2 separate regions of the Homo sapiens genome follow, and region 1 is linked to region 2. Evidence: fine-mapped expression QTL. A gene starts in region 2. The other region holds a variant in brackets. All regions are shown on one strand. Distances are between the middles of the regions. Region 1 has its middle 14 kb from the start of FBXL14. Region 2 holds the start of WNT5B (Wnt family member 5B).

What was found. PIP is the estimated chance that this variant, and not a neighbour inherited with it, causes the effect. A credible set is the group of variants that fine-mapping cannot tell apart.
Region 1: its variant is the best candidate, but not a certain one, in a credible set for the expression of WNT5B in whole blood (Lepik 2017, PIP 0.67).

What each region holds. Positions count from the first base shown.
Region 1 is chr12:1,607,230-1,610,139 of GRCh38, forward strand. No RefSeq gene overlaps it. Among named protein-coding and RNA genes, the nearest start is that of FBXL14, 14 kb to the left of the region's middle. The variant G/A (reference allele first, on the strand shown) is at 1,679.
Region 2 is chr12:1,627,830-1,630,739 of GRCh38, forward strand. It overlaps WNT5B (Wnt family member 5B), which reads left to right and starts at 1,402. Exons shown (of 5, transcript NM_032642.3): 1 at 1,402-1,542. RefSeq lists silencers at 2,320-2,509, 2,540-2,599, 2,554-2,848.

The DNA of each region.
Region 1 (2,910 bases), 21 kb before region 2:
CTTGAACTGGGGAGGCGGAGGTTGCAGTGAACTGAGATCACGCAACTGCACTCCAGCCTGGGTGACAGAGCAAGACTCTGTCTCAGAAAAAAAAAGAAAGAAAGAAAAAAAAAAGAATTCCTTAATTTCCTTAATTTAACTGGTTCAGGGAACCTAAATGAGAGTTGTCACATAATAGCAAATCTTAGTGACCAGATGACACTCAAAGCAGGTGTAAATATTTAACAAAAGCACTGTGTAGACATTTAATGACAATGGTTGCTTTTTGTTTGCTTGCTTTTTATTTGTTTACAAATGAAAATAAAGCAGAGAATGAGAAGTCACTTTCTCAGGGTCACGGGAACAATTCAGGTTGAACGCATCTCTCCTCCGACATGCCGAGCGTCTTTGAGTCTCCTCACCCAGGCGCACACTCAGGATTGCAGTCATCTGCTATTGTTGCCTTTATTTATTTTGAGACGGAGTCTCGCTCTTGTCACCCAGGCTGGAGTGCAGTGATGCGATCTCGGCTCACTGCAACCTCCGCCTCCCGGGTTCAAGGGATTCTCCTGCCTCAGCCTCCCGAATAGCTGGGACTACAGGCATGTACCACCACGCTCAGCTAATTTTTTTTTTTTTGTATTTTTAGTAGAGACGGGGTTTCACCATGTTGGCCAGGCTGGTCTTGAACTCCTGAGTTCAGGTGATCCACCCGTCTCGGCCTCCCAAAGTGCTGGGATTACAGGTAGGAGCCACTGCACCTGGCCTATTGTTGCCTTTTTACTTGATATTTCAATAAATTTGTGAGCAATTGGAATGGTAAGAAATTCGCTGCAGTACATAAAAGTTTGATCACTTAGACTGCTGTGTGATTAGGGTTGCTCAGTGATCTTCCGGCAATAAAGGGAGGAAAAGGAGAAATTTCAGATGGAGTGATGATGGATGTCCTCAGGCATGTCAATGGCTGCTGAAGTGCTATGGGAAAATGGAAAACACAATCTTTGGGATCCCTCTTTCAGCCATTTTCCTGCTTTTATATCTATAAACTTTAAAAAGTAGGGCATACTTTAAACAATAGTATACTAAGAAATTGTCACCGCTGGCAGAGCCAAAATTGAATCAGCTTGCCTTGTGATTACATCAGAAATGTGTCTTAGTCTGTAAAGCTTCACTACAGGAAATGCCCAGGAGCTGCTAATAAAGTTTAATACACATTTGCTTCCTTAATGCTATATTAACATCCTGACCATCACAACTTTCATTGTAAACCTATTGCTTATTAAAAACACCCTGTAAGATGTCACAAACTGACAGAAAGTTGGGGCTACTACATGAATTAATATGCTAACTAGTATTTTTCAGTGTTATATAGTATAAGATAGTAAGTGCTTGAAATATGAGCATTTTGAAATCCTTGGCCAGCATAATCCCATGGGTAACACTGAATTATCCATGGCTGTGGGAGAGAGCAGGTGGTTCACTTCCAACCATGGGTTGTGTTCCAAACTAAGGGTTTTTGTTTGTTTTGTTTTCTTTCTTTTAAAGAAAATCAAGTTTATTTTTGAAACTGTTCATTTTAATTCTAAGACAAAGCTAGAAAAAGAAGAATGGAAGATCTGGAAAAAAAGCATTGTCAACTGTCACTGTCCTACCATGGGAAAGAAATGTCTTACAAACGGAAAAAAAAGTTGGAGAGAAC[G/A]AGAAGTTTCTGGTGTTATGTAAGAGGAAGCGCCCAGATTACATATAAAAGTCAACTGCTTCACGCCCTGTTACTAAATATTAGGGATGCAAAATACGTGGTGGCAGTAAGTCAGAGCCTGGTTTCCTAAATATTTCTTACATGTTAGGGATCCTGAGAGATCCCTAAACAAGTAGAAAATTCTTTTTTTTTTCTTTTTGAGACAGGGTCTCACTCTGTTGCCTAGGCTGAAGTGCAATGGCATAATCATGGCTCACTGCAGCCTCAACCTCCTGGGATCCTGGGCTCCTGGGCTCCTGGGGTGATCCTCCCACCTCAGCCTCCCGAGAAGTTCCACTACAGCCAGCCACCACGCCTGGCTAATTTTGCATTTTTAGTAGAGACGGGGTTTCTCCATGTTGGTCAGGCTGGTCTCGAACTCCTGACCTCAAGTGAGCCACCCGCCTCGTCCTCCCAAAGTGCTGGGATTACAGGTGTGAGACACTGCGCCCGGCCAACAAGTGGAAAATACTATCCTGAATGAGTGTGTGTGTGCCTGCTGGGAGAATATTTCCTAGTGTTTCCTAGATCCTTGTTAGTTGACTTCCCACCCACAAAGCCCCAGAAGGAGTAAACTGTCTCTAAATATCAGAATAAACAACAACAATAAAACAACTTTTATATTTTCATTTCTTTTTCTTTTTGTTTTGTTTTGTTTTGTTTTGTTTTGTTTTTTGAGACAGGGTCTCACTCTGTTGCTCAGGCTGGAGTGCAGTGGTGTAATCATGGCTCACTGCAGCCTTGAACTGCTGGTCTCAAGCAATTCTCCTGCCCCAGCCTACCAAGCAGCTGGGACTACAGGCATGCGCCACCACACCCAGCTAATTTTAAAATTTTTTGTAGAGACAGGGTGTCCCTATATTGCCCAGGCTGGTCTCTAACTCCTGGTCTCAAGTGATCCACCTGCCTCAGCCTCCCAAAATGCTGGGATTTCCGGCGTGGACCTCACTGCCCAGCTAAAACAACTTTTAAAAGGTATATTAGAGATCCAACTAGATTCTACTCTTGCATTTATCTGCAGCATATCAGTTTGGTTTGCCCATGGTTAGGTGGTTCTTGGTCTGGGTCTTAGTTTCATGCGTCTATGCATATGTGGAAACTCATCAAGCTGTACATTTAAGACTTGTGCGTTTTAACTCTGTGTGTTTTGTTTCAATTTTAAAAAGTTTTTATTTATTTATTTTTTAAGTCAG
Region 2 (2,910 bases):
ATGCTACCACCCCTTCCCATTCTTGATTCTGGTCCCCTCTTTATTTTCCTCATAGTATTCACTGGACCTAACTTATGATACATTTGTTTGTTCACTGCCATGTCTCTGGCACTTAGAGCAGTAACTGGCACATATTAGGCACCCAGGGTGTAATTCATTTGATTAATGAATGTATTGAATGGCTGCATGGATGAATGAAGAGGAGGAACAGAGCAGATGTCTGACCAGCTCATTCTGGCTTCTGGAAGGATCCTGATTGGGAATTTTGCATCTTTCCCTCCCCACAGCCTCCTAGTCACTACTACTAAAGAATAGAGACCCTGACTCCCACTTTTTTTTTTTTTTGAGATGGAGTCTTGCTCTGTCACCCGGCTGGAGTGCAGTTGTGCTATCTTGGCTCACTGCAACCTCCACCTCCCAGGTTCAAGCGATTCTCCTGCCTCAGCCTCCCAAGTAGCTGCGACTGCAGGCATGTGCCACCACATCTGGCTAATTTTTATACTTTTTTATTACAGGTGAGCTTTCACCATGTTGGCCGGGCTGGTCTCGAACTCCTGACCTCAGGTGATCTGCCCACCTTGGCCCCCCGAAGAGCCCCGCATTCTTAACTACTGTGTTTGGTATGTTTGAATTGACACTTGCCTCTTAGGAAGGGGAATCTTTTTAGACCCTGGGGAAATCTGTAGTTATTGCAAAGGCCTTTTCCTGCCTGTTGGGCATTTACCAGATCTTTCTTCCTACACAAGGAGAGCCTCCCCTGGTTGAATCCTGCTATAAATCTCACTAGTGACCCACAAACAGGGGTCCCAATGTGACCTGCTCATTAACACAAAACCGTCAGCCCCCATACAGCTTCCTGCCTTCCCAGTCGGGTTGAGGCAAGAAATTTCCATTCTGCCCATGCTGATGAAACCAGTCGCCAGCATTTACCTTTCTAAGGGGTCCTTTCTCCTCCCACCCCAGCCCACCCCAGCACAAGAATGTAAGAGAGGGCAAACAGCTGCCTGGCTTCAGTTCTATGGCCACTCAAGAATTGGCTCGCATCTGTCTGCCAGGACAGAGAGCGTCCTGAGGGGGCTGGTGTGTGTGTTGTGTGTGTGTGTGTGCACGCGCGCGTGCATATGTGTGTATGGGGGAGTTCAGTTTCAGGTACCACACATCTGGAAGTCAGAGAAAGAAGCCACTGCACATGTTAGAGCCATTTTGGGGGGCAATTTTTAAAAAAAAAAACATTTTTAATGGGCTGAGAGCCGCCTCGTGGAAAGCCCGGGGCGGGGGATGGAGTAGAAACAGCTGCGGGAGTGATTCTTGTCTCCATATATGTTTATAAGGCACTGAGGGCGGGATTAGCAGCTCCTGGGAAGTCTGGCTCTAGTTACCGTGTCAGCCTGTCCTGGGGGCAGTCACAGCCACAGTGACCATTAGCAGGCACCCAGGCCTGTCTTTGGCTCGGAAACGGTGGCCCCCAATGTAGCCTAGTTTGAACCTAGGAACTGCAGGACCAGAGAGATTCCACTGGAGCCTGATGGACGGGTGACAGAGGTGAGAGGCACTGGTGTGAGGGACAAGTGTCACAGGCGGGGAGGAAGAACTCCGCTATCTGGTGGTGGAAATGTGTGAGGATCAAAGTCCCCAGGGAGAGTAGGTGTTGCGGGCGGCAGGGTGGTGGGCTGGGCACGGGCTGGGCATAGGCTGGGCAGGAGGCTTCGGGGCCGCGGGGAGGAGGCTGGAGAAGCAGGAGGGCACGGGCGGCCCTAGCTCTGCAACCCCGGGAAGGACTGGTAGGTGGAGTTAAGGATATTTGGACAAGGAAACGCTTTGAAGCTTTTCTCTCGTCCTCCCTACTCGGGACCTGGTCGCCTCCCCTCCATAAAACCATTAGCTCCTGGTGCCAGCCCTATCTCTGCTCCATCTCTCGTGGTTCCAGCCGGTGCATTCACAGACCTTCTGCCCCGGGGGACGAGGAGGATTTATGGGGGGAGAGGAGAGGGGGAGGGGCATCCTCCAGAGGAGGGGGGGTCTGAGGGGAGTCGGGCGTGGAAGCTGTTAGTCCCGGGCTGGGGGCCGGCTCACTTCCGAGCTGGCTCTGCATGACAAAGGGGAAGGAGCAAGTGTCTTCTTTGATCTGCCCCCTGCCGGCCCCACACACCTGCCTGTTGGTGCCCCCGCCCCAGCCGAGGCTTCGAGAAGGAAAATCAAAAGGGGGCTTGGGGAAGGGCTGTGTCCCAGCTCTCCTGGACCCTGCTCGGGCCACTGTCCTCTCCTGGCGGCCCCAGGACAAAAATACTTCCCGGGCTGATGACCCGAAGCACCCGCCGCCCCCTCCCGGGGAGCCTGGGGACGCCGACGCGCGAGAGTGGCGCAGTGAGCCGGGGCGCGCGGGGCTGCGCTCGTCAGGTCCGGGGCCCCGGGGAGGCCGCTGGGGGCGCGGGTCACGCCCAGACGGGGGCCCCGGAGGACCGCGGGGGAGCCGCAGGGGCCGTGTGTCCCGAGGCGCAGGCTCGCTCTAGCAGCACTGACCTGCTGCGGGTCCCAGGGCCTGGGGACAGGGGCTCTCGGGGGCGGATAGAGGAACAGGCGTGGGTTACAGCAGGCAGGAGGCCAAGAGGCGGGAGGCCCGGGAGCCAGCAGGGAAGGGCTGTGGCATCTGGAAGATGCGTCCTCAGCTCAGGCATTTGATGCCAGAGCTGCCGCCTGGCGTCGGCAGTGTCCCCGGTGCAGCTGCTGGGCAAGGTACTCGGTGCCGCCCTCGAGGACCACGGTGCCGGGAGGGGCAGGGGCCGCCTAGGGAGGCACCACCTCAGCCGCCAGAGCTTTCCGGGCGGGCGGTTCGCGGCGTGGCTTGTACATTTCTCAGAGAAGCTGCCTTGAGAAAGTGAAAAGTCCTTGATCTGTACGCAGGGGTTGGGA